Regions from separate parts of the Homo sapiens genome. Here region 1 is linked to region 2. The links come from fine-mapping of genetic effects on gene expression. A gene starts in region 2. The other region holds a variant in brackets. All regions are shown on one strand. Distances are from middle to middle. Region 1 overlaps SARDH (sarcosine dehydrogenase). Region 2 holds the start of SARDH (sarcosine dehydrogenase).

Region 1 (5,362 bases), 69 kb before region 2:
AGAGACCACCCCTTCCCCTTCTGGGGAGGCTGCCCACCCCCTGCCCCACCACCCCTGGCCACCCAGAGCTGTCCTGGGACTTGCTCCTGGGGGCAGTGCCTGCTCTTTCCAGCCTGTTCCTGCCTCCTGCAGCCAGGGGTCAGGGTCACCTGGAGGGGGTGGGGTTGCCTGGGGTCAGGGGTGTCGGGGGTGAGGAAAGAGAGGATAGGAACATGGGTCTCTGAGTCTCTAGTCGGTCACCCTGGGGGCCACCCCTGCACCCCAGGCAAAGGGTGGGCTGTGGGTGGCCTGAGGTTTGGGTCTCTGGTGTGAGGAGCTGGAAGGTATCAGCCTGGCTGGCTGGCACCTCCTTCTAACCAAAAAAAGCCTGGAATCACCAAAGTCGGATTCTTCCAGAAAGAAAACAGAGAGCAGCTTTGGCTCTGCCCAGGCACAGCTGGGGAGTCCTCCACCTGCTGAGGCCTCTTCCTCCCCCTTCTCCTTCTCCCTCCCTCCTCCCTCTCCCTCCTCCTCCTCCTTCCTCTCTCCCCTTTTTCCTTCCCCCTCCTTCTCCTCCTTCCTTCCTCCCCCTCTTCCCTCCTCCCTCCTTTCTCTTCCCTCCTCCTCTTCTGGACCACACCCGTGCCTCCTCCCTATGCCCGGCACACTCAGGGTGCAGTGCAGGGAGCTGGTTTGGAGCTGGTGAGGGATCGGCATCTGCCTTAGCAGGGCCAGAGAAGGGGACTCACCGGCCCACCGCTGGGGTCATGGATGTAACCGTAGGCGATGGTCTTGTCGATGGCGAACCCAAAGTCAGCCCTCCGGACATGGCCCACCACTTGGCCGTTCCTCCAGATGGCCTCCAGGCCAAACATGGGTACTTTGCTGGAAGAAGCAGTAGAGAAAGCTGGGGCCCCAGAAACCGCAGGGTGGGGACGCGTCCACAGCGGCCTGGAGGAGAATGGGGGGCTGCATGATGCACACCCAACCGTGGCTCCAGGCAGATAGGGCTGGCCTACTAGGACTACGCTGGTCCCCAGAGCCAGCCCAGCACCTGGCCTGGACAGCAGGGCTCGGGCTTCGAGTGAGTAAAAGGGATGAATAGAAAACATCAAAACCAGGAGTGGACTTTGCTGTTTCCAGAAGCGAGCCCCGTATATTTGGGAGGGCCCCTGCTTCCGATTTCCTTCCATTGTTGTTCAACTCTGGTTTTTTTTTTTTTTTTTTTTTTGGTGCAGTGGCACAATCTAGACTCACTACAACCTCCGCCTCCCAGGTTCAAACGATTCTCCTGCCTCAGCCTCCGGAGTAGCTGGGATTACAGGCACCCACCACCATGCCCGGCTAATTTTGTATTTTTAATAGAGATGGGGTTTCATCATGTTGGCCAGGCTGGTCTCGAACTCCTGACCTCAAGTGATCTGCCCACCTCAGCCTCCCAAAGTGCTGGGATTACAGACTTGAGCCACTGCGCCCGGCCAGGTTCATTTTTTTTATAGTACAATACATACTTTATTCAAAGGACTTTACTACATGTAATACATGAATGCTCACTGTAAAAGTTTTAAAGATTAAAAGCAGGAAGACAAAAAAAAAAAAGTAAGCTAAAATCAAAGAAAGGCCAGCACCCAGGGCTAACTGGTAACATTTTGTTGCCAGTCTGCAGACTTCTCCCTGTGCAATGGGTTATCACGGCGGCAGCTATGCAAAGGGGTCCCTGAATGGAAGGGCTGGGGTGATGTTGAGGGCACCTCCTGCATCCTCAGCCTGGAGTCACTGTTTGGGTCCCACCTGTCCATCAGATTAGGACGAGGCTGGAAGGAGGTTTCGTAAACATCTTTGGTGTCACCCTAGTTTCTGTTCTCCACGTGAGGACGCTGAGGCCCCAACTGCCCGGAGTCCCAGAGCAGTGTGGCAGGGCTGTTCTCTGTGACTCCACTGCCAGCATCTTCTCTGCGCCTGTCCTGGAACTGCAACAGTCCAGAGCCGCGGCGCAGGGCAGCTATTATGCAGCCTGACAGGAAACCCCTGAGCAGAGCGCACTGGGTCACAGGGGCCGTCCGAGGCCCTCCTAAACCCAGACATCAGGCTGCAGGTACTTCATGGAGGGCCAGAAGGTCGGGGTCAGGCAAGCAGAAAGGACCCATGGATGCTGACCTGTCTGCAAGGGGCCCCCTCTCCAGGAGCTGAGCTGATTCAGGGAGCTGGACAGGCTGTCACACAAGAGACAGAGCCTGACAGGCACCCAGGGAGAAGCCAC[A/G]GGATGACGACGACACGGCTCCACTCACCGTCCCTCTCCCTCCCTCTCCCTCCCTCTCCCTCCCTCTCCCCCACCCTCCCTCTCCCTCTCCCTCATTCTCCCTCACCCTCCCTCTCCCTCACCCTCATTCTCCCTCAGCCTCCCTCTCCCTCTCCCTTCACCCTCCCTCTCCCTCTCCCTTCACCCTCCCTCTCCCTTACCCTCCCTCTCCCTCGCCCTCCCTCTCCCCTCGCCCTCCCTCTCCCCTCACCCTCACCCTCCCTCTCCCTCACCCTCCCTCTCCCTCACCCTCCCTCTCCCTCACCCTCCCTCTCCCCTCACCCTCCCTCTCCCTCACCCTCCCTCTCCCTCACCCTCCCTCTCCCCTTACCCTCCCCCTCCCTCTCCCTCACCTTCCCTCTCCCCTACCCTCCCTCTCCCTCACCCTCCCTCTCCCCTCACCCTCCCTCTCCCTCACCCTCCCTCTCCCTCACCCTCCCTCTCCCCTTACCCTCCCCCTCCCTCTCCCTCACCTTCCCTCTCCCCTACCCTCCCTCTCCCTCACCCTCCCTCTCCCTCACCCTCCATCTCCCCTCACCCTCCCTCTCCCCTCACCCTCCCTCTCCCTCACCCTCCATCTCCCCTCACCCTCCCTCTCCCTCACCCTCCCTCTCCCTCACCCTCCCTCTCTCTCTCCTTCCCTCTCCCTTACCCTCCCTCTCCCTCACCTTCCCTCTCCCTCACCTTCCCTCTCCCTCACCCTCCATCTCCCTCACCCTCCCTCTCCCCTTACCCTCCCTCTCCCTCACCTTCCCTCTCCCTTACCCTCCCTCTCCCTCACCCTCCATCTCCCCTCACCCTCCCTCTCCCTCACCCTCCCTCTCCCTCACCCTCCCTCTCTCTCTCCTTCCCTCTCCCTTACCCTCCCTCTCCCTCACCTTCCCTCTCCCTCACCTTCCCTCTCCCTCACCCTCCATCTCCCTCACCCTCCCTCTCCCTTACCCTCCCTCTCCCTCACCCTCCCTCTCCCCTCACCCTCCCTCTCCCCTCACCCTCCCTCTCCCTCACCCTCCCTCTCCCCTCATCCTCCCTCACCCTCCCTCTCCCTCGTCCTCCCTCTCCCTCCCCTCGTCACTCTGACACTCCTTTTGAAGGCTCCAGAAATCTGGGAGAAGTGGCAGTGTTTGCAGCTGGCTGTCAGCTCCATGTCCACAGAGCCCAAAGCCGCCCACTTCCCCGGATACCTGTGCTTCAGACCCCCGTGGGCACCACGGGAGGGCCTCTGATCAGGGCCTGATCTTCTCAGACTGCCCTGCAACCCAAGTGGGACTCGGGTTCCTGGAATCCAAACTCTCCCAGTAGCCCAGGGATCACGTGCGCCGGGCTCCAGCAGCATGCTCAAAGCCACTCTCAGTGGGGAGAGCAGGAGGTCAGGTCGCCCCCAGGCAGAGTCTCTCCTTCCACCTCTGCCGTGTGACTGGGCGTGAGTCCCCTGCTCCTTGGCACCATGTGGTCTCCATTCGTGAGTGGGGATGACGGCCCCAGCCGAGCCCCTCTCCCCCTATCACAGGGCTGTGGGGAGACTGAACCAGAACGGGATGGGAGGTCGTGTTGCAGTGACTGGGAGGTCAGGCTCCCTGGGTTCACCCTCCCAAGGCCCTCGGCCTAGACCTGCCACAGAGGGGTGGCCTGGGCTTGGCTGCACCTTTCTCTTTTGAGACCTGCATGGGAAGAGTGTGGAGCCTTCTCTACCTCCCCACGGGCCCTGCTGGCCTGGGAGGGGCCCCAGGTGCGCAACCTTACACTGGCCTGGTTTGAATCCCAGCATGTTGGGATCCTCACGCTTGTAATCCCAGCACTTTGGGAGGCCGAGGCAGGCAGATCACGAGGTCAGGAGAGTTCAAGACCAGCCTGGCCAACATGGTGAAACCCCATCTCTACTAAAAGTACAAAAATTAGCTGGGTGTGGTAGTGCACGCCTGTAATCCCAGCTACTTGGGAGGCTGAGGCAGGAGAATCACTTGAACCTGGGAGGCGGAGGTTGCAGTGAGCCGAGATTGCGCCACTGCACTCCGGCCTGGGCAATAGAGTGAGACTCCGTCTCAAAAAAAAAAAAAAAAAAAAGAGCAAACTCTCTCTGCCTTTCTGCCTTTAACAACATGTGACCTGGCCAGATGGCCTCTCTCTTTGGCCTCGATTTCCTTATCTGCAGTGGGCTGTTGGGTGCGTTCTGGAAGAGCATGGCTGGCACATGGGAAGTGTTGGTACCAGGGGCTTTGAGTGGGGGACCAAGAAGCGCCTGCCTGCCCTGGCTGTAGGCAGTTGCTTCCGGGTGGGCGTGGAACAGCGGGATACTCACTCCTCCATGGTGAAGCACACCAGGCGCCGGCGGAGGCCTGCGGCCCGCTGCTGCTCCAGGGCCTCCCTCCCCAGGAAGGGCACCGGCGACTTGAGCTTGCAGGTGAAGGCCAGGCCTGCCTCCAGGGGGCTGTCGTCTGGCCGCAGGTCCGCGTGCCAGTGCCGGTAGCCTGTGGGAAGGGAATCCATGGGGTCGGTGCCACCCTGAGGGGGATAAGCCCTTCAGGAGATGCATGAGGATGCTGCCTAAACCCACCCCCTCCAGCCCCTAGCCACACTCTCAGAGCTGCTTAGTCACCTGGGCAGGAGGCAGGGGCATCCCCAACTCCAGAAGGTTCCCTGGGGCGACCGCTCCCCCGAGCAGACTGCCCATCAGCACTGCAGCCCTCTGCACCCTCAGGTGGGGGCGTCAGGGAGGGGCTTGTGAAGGGGGAGCTTCCCAATGCCCAAGCTGGGTGCCCAACACCCAGGGGAGCTGCCTGACGCCCAAGCTGGGTGCCCAACACGCTGGGGAACCGCCCAAAGCCCGCTCTGAGCCTTCATCCTTGCTCTGGACAGGGTCTGGGCTTCTTCCAGAGGCCACAGCACCTGCTCCCTGGCTCCATTCTTCACAGCTCTCAGAGAAACCAAGGCCCTCAATTCCAACCCAGCCTGGGCCTGACCCCCAGGTGTCAGGCAGCACCTCAGCTCTCTGAGTTCAGGTGTGTGTAGGTGTCGCAGATCCCAACACTGTCCCTGGGGCCCTGCACGAAGACCCTGGGCAGCAAGAGGTTTTGGGGAAATGGA
Region 2 (5,362 bases):
TCCTCCCCTCTGCTCCTTCCCAGCTGACCCACCCCGACTCCCTCCTCCTTCAGGAAACCCTCCCAGATCTGCCCAGCCAGAAAAATCCAATAACAATGAGAATGCAAGAGGGAGCCCTCCTTCTCAGGAGAGAAGGCGCTGATGAAGACGGATGTCTCCTTGGGTGCAGGCGAGGCAGGACAGGCAGTCAAAGGAGTCACCATGTCCTGGGGACGCAGCAACCGTGGTGACTGCAATCCACACAATCAGCCTCCACGTTTGCACTGTAACTGAGCTCGTGTTAACTGAGCTCGTTCAAGCAAAGCTGTCTGCAGTAGGGCCTTTCCCCTGGAGAGGGCATGTGCACATTGATTTTACCTGTCCTCAAACTGACCCTTTGCTCATTCTAATAGTAAAAAAACACACCCCTCGGTGGAGATTTTAAGATGCTAATGAGGCCGGGCTCTGTGGCTCATGCCTGTAATCCCAGCACTTGGGGAGGCCGAGGCAGGCGGATCACCTGAGGTCAGGAGTTTGAGACCAGCCTGACCAACATGGAGAAACCCCATCTCTACTAAAAATACATTAGCCGGGGGTGGTGGTGCATGCCTGTAATCCCAGCTACTCTGGAGGCTGAGACAGGAGACTTGCTTAAACCCGGGAGGTGGAGGCTGCAGTAAGCCGAGATTGTGCCATTGCACTCCAGCCTGGGCAACAAGAGTGAAACTCCGTCTCAAAAAAAAAAAAAAAAAGATGCGAAAGAGACATGTGACGTATGAACAAACATGTACAGCTACCGCATGTGCACCCAGAGGACCAGCCATCACATGCTGCCTAGTAACCTCTTCCTCTCTTTCCACCCACTTATGAATAATTGTGGAAGACTCCCTGAAAGGGGGTTTCTCCAACAATCATCAATGCTGCCTCACACTCAGGAGCAGCCCCCCGCCTGGAATCCTCTCTCTCCCAGGGTGCATCCGCACCTAACTTTCAAAATGTTCTTTTTCTTTTGCAATAAATTGCTCTATGTTGCAGCTCTTTTGCTGTGTGTCTCATGTTTAAATTCTGTTTTGTTGTTGTTGTTGTTGTTTGTTTGTTTGTTTGTTTTGAGAAAGAGTCCCACTCTGTCTTCCAGGCTGGAGTGCAGTGGCATGATCTTGGCTCACTGCAACCTCTGCCTCCTGGGTTCAAGCGATTCTCCCACCTCAGCCTCTCGAGTAGCTGGGATTATAGGTGCATGCCACCATGCCTGGCTAATTTTTGTATCTTTAGTAGAGACAGGGTTTCACCATGTTGGCCAGGCTGGTCTCGAACTCCTGACCTCAGGTGATCCGCCTGCCTCGGCCTCCCAAAGTGCTGGGATTACAGGCATGAGCCACTGTGCCCAGCCTAAATTCTTTAAACTAAGAAGTTAAGAACGGAGGTCTCACAACAGCCCTCAATGGAAGGGTGGGGTGGTGTCCTGCCCAGTGTGGACCTCCACTGCCCTTTTCTGGGATCTGCAGGAAAAGTGAAAGGGATGTGGCTGTGATCCAAGATGTGAAGTGCTGTGCCACCTACGTCAGTATGAATGACTGATATAATTATCTAAGAAAGTCAGCATCCTTTTTCAAGAGTGGACCATAGCTATGCACGTTCGTTCACTCTCATTGAACACCTATAGACACATGATAATGTCTCTACTTCACAGCGGGGGAGTCTGACACACGGAGAGGCTCCCTGAGGTGACCAGGGTCATAGGGCCTCCATGTGGCAGTGCCAGGGACTCTCTCCTGCCCCCTCTTCTGACCATCCCAGGGGGACTCAGGACCCACTGCCACACTCTGTCCCACCTGAACTGTGGGCACTGCCCAAGCCCTGACGAAGCCCAGAACCCTGTCCTAGGCACAGTGGGGGATGTGAGGGGGATCCCAGCTCTCAGGCTGGTCAGGGCTGCCCCCCATCTCCTGCCCCAGTGCCCCATCCCAAGGGAGGGAGCAGGGAGTCTGATTGCAGCGGCGTAGGGGAGTGAGGAGGTGTTGGAGCTTGTCCTCAGCCTCTCAGCCCTCAGTGTGTCAGCCCGCCTGGCTCCTGCCTGCAGAGGTGGCCCCGGACAAGGAGGCATGCCTCCTGCATGTGTCTGTACATACCTTCAGTCCTTGAAGGTCCACAGTCTTCCAGGAGCCCCCAAAAGTGGTGCCCCACCAGGGGAAAGCCAGCTTGAGTGGCACCGAGGAAGGCCCTCCAAGGCTGAACACCCCCACCCCACCACCCACCACCCACCACGGTGCCGCATGGCACAGCACACCTGGTCAGCTGTGGGCAAAAGCCTCCCTCCTCCTTCCGACTGTGCCCAAAAAGCGACAGCTGCTGGCGCCGGAGGCTGCCACGTGCCCCTTCACCACCTGCCTGGTCAGTCAGGGCTCTTCTGACTGTCAGACTGGGGGCTGGCAGCGGCCCCAGCGGGGACAGCCCAGAGCCCCTCCTGCCTGCCACCTCCCTGGAAACAGCTGCCTCCACATTAACCCACTCTCTTGCCCCCTCCAACTCTGTCTCGTACCTGAGTCAGCTTCCCAGGAGTGAGGGCTGAGGACAGCCCTGGGCTTGGGATCAGACAGATGGGTGGGGGTTTTGTCACAGGACTGGGGCCTCGAGCAACAACTTAACCTCACTGCAAAGCAGAGGACCCAGGAACGCCCTCCTCCTCCCAGGCTCAGGGGGTGGTGGGGGTCAAGCGAGGAGAGCGCCTGGCACCTTCGCCTGGTGAGGGTAGGCAGACTTGTGGGGAGGAGCGGCAGGGGGCGGGGAGGCAGCTGCCCATATGGTGAACCCTGGTCCTGCTCATGCAGCTGGATGGTCCCTGCAGCCAGAGGCAGAGGGAGATCCCAGCCAGATCTGACCAGGCCCAGCCCCGCCCACATAGGGGAGGCCCCAGCCTCGTCCCTCCCTGGGGGTGTACCTCCAAGTACCTCTTGTCAGCTGCAGTGCCCCTCGGCCCTAAGAGTGCTTGGCCCAGCAGAGGTGCCTTCACCTTCTTGCTTCCCAAGCAGTGGCCTGGCCGGAACTCCAGGCCTCCCCCGCCCCCCACCCTCGCTGCCAGCCCCATGTCTCCGCCCAGGATCTGGGCGGAGCGTACCGCCCACCACTGCGGCTTCTAGGCCAGCTTAGTTGGGGCTTCTAGGCCAGCCCTGTGGGCAGCTCCCTCTGAGGGCGGCAGAGCAGGGTTGTGAACCCCATGCCCCATTACCCGTAGGCGACCTGGCAGTCACCCTTCCGCTCCAACCCTCATTTCCTCGTCTCTGAAACAGGCGCCTCAGGGTTGCTGCAGTAGACCCAGGCACCACCTGCCTGCTGGAGCCGCCCGAGCTCCCCGCGCCCAGAAGGAGCTATGCACAGGCAGGGTGGGCAGGAAAGGTGGGGTCAGCAGCAGCTTGGGCCAGGGGCCCGTCCACTGCAGGGAGGCTCCTTTGGTGAGGTCATCTCAGCACATGCCCCAGTTTGCTCACCCCCAGGGACAGGATGCTCACTGCCTTCAGAGGCGAGTGAGAAGGCCTGGGTCAGCTTCCCAGGGACAGGGTCTCCTGGTCTGTCTGCGTCCTGCTTTCCCGAGCTCCCAGACCCCTCTGGTGTTTGGGGAGATGCCCCCAAGCCACTGGCTACTGCACAGCACGTAGCCCCCAGGGCAGGGATTCCAGCCTCCATTGACTGTTGGGGACAGCAGTGCCCAGGGAGGGGGCCACACAGCAAGCTGGTGGAGGAGGCAGACCGGATGCTGCAGCCTGACTCTGGGCTGGGGCAAGTTACCCCTTCCCAGACAGAAGTAGACACCCAGAGGAGGGGTGTGGAGGAAACCCAGAAAGAATACACCTCTGGATGCCCAAAGAATCAGAACAGGTGCTGATGGAAAGTCACATCTCCTCCTCGCGCTGGATCAAAGACGGGGCATTTCAATGGCAGTCTGTTAATATTGTAATGATGCCAGCTGCCAATACCGGAAGCGATCGTATAGTAAACTGCTGTAATTAATACCAATCAAATCATTGTGTTCTTATTCACACCGAGGATGTCCGACTGTCTTGTTGCCAGCTTGTCTATCCTCTACATTTACTGAATGCCCAATGTGTACAAAGCACTGCTGGGAAACCTATAGTGACATCTAAGACCCAGCCCCTGCCCTCGAGGGGCTCAGGGTCCACGAAGCAGACAGATCCAGGGAGAGACACGACACCACAAGGCTGGCTTCCTTCCAGCAGGGAATCCAGGAGGACCTCTTAGAGGAGGGGGCCTGGGCTCTGGGCCTGACCACGTGCTGACACCATTCTCAGTCCCTGCCTCAAAGGCAAAGGGCCCACTGGCTTAGGCCCCTGGCTGCCCAGTGGAAAGCTGGCCCCGCCAGTTTGAGGCTTACCTGGGGTGGTGTGGGGGTCCTGGGGCAGAGGACCTCCTCTTTGGATGGTGTGGCTTGCCCAGTGGCCTGAGCTAGGGCTGTGCTCACCCAACAGGGTGACGAATGAGCTCAAGAGGGCAAGGAAGGAGTGTGGCCCAAGTTCTCCCAGGAGTCCTGGACGTGCAAGTGCATGGGAGAAAAACGCAGCAGTCACCACAGCTCCAGGGCAGTGGCCGGGTAGCCCACACTTCTCCTGTCCCTGCACTCAAAGACAAGTTGCAACTGTTGCAAAACTGTTACAAGCCAAGAGGGCAGCACAATGAACCTGCACTTTGGACAAGGGGTGGTGGCTGGGGGCCGGTCCCGGCCTGTTAGCTGTCTGTTAGTATCGTAGGATTTTCATCCGGCAGGGCCTGTTAGCACCCAGCTCCGGTCTGGGAGAGGTGGAAAGGCTGTCTCCCCCCAGGGACTAGTAGTCACAGCTCTGGAGAGGCCAGGCTCCGGACAAGGAGGCCAAGACAGGGTCCTGTACGATCTCGGGCTGGTCTTATCACCTCTCCCTTTGCTGAGACTTAGTTTTCCCATCTTGGAACAGGAGGCTGGAAGCCCTGCCATGTCAGTTTCACAGAAGCCTTGTAAATTTCCCTGAGTAAATTTCCTTCAGTCCTGCTCTAGATCACACCAACAGAGGGGCTGCCACCTCAAAGAAGTCACCCCACCAGGGATAAAATCTACTTGATCACGGTGCATGATCTTTTTAATGTGCTGTTGAATTTGGTTTGCTAATTTTTTTTTTTTTTAGACGGAGTCTTGCTCTGTCGCCCATGCTGGAGTGCGGTGGCACGATCTCGGCTCACTGCAACCTCCGCCTTCCCGGTTCAAGCGATTCTCCTCCCTCAGCCTCCCAAGTAGCTGGGATTACAGGCACGCACCACCGTGCCCAGCTAATTTTTTGTATTTTTAGTAGAGACGGGGTTTGACCATGAATGGCCAAGCTGGTTTCGAACTCCTGACCTT

The links. PIP is the estimated chance that this variant, and not a neighbour inherited with it, causes the effect.
Region 1: its variant is the best candidate, but not a certain one, in a credible set for the expression of SARDH in amygdala (GTEx, PIP 0.73).

Annotation. Positions count from the first base shown.
Region 1 is chr9:133,666,007-133,671,368 of GRCh38, forward strand. It overlaps SARDH (sarcosine dehydrogenase), which reads right to left. Exons shown (of 21, transcript NM_001134707.2): 19 at 4,578-4,746; 20 at 729-864. Among named protein-coding and RNA genes, the nearest start is that of DBH-AS1, 11 kb to the left of the region's middle. The variant A/G (reference allele first, on the strand shown) is at 2,240.
Region 2 is chr9:133,735,327-133,740,688 of GRCh38, forward strand. SARDH (sarcosine dehydrogenase) reads right to left here and starts at 3,026. Exons shown (of 21, transcript NM_001134707.2): 1 at 2,928-3,026.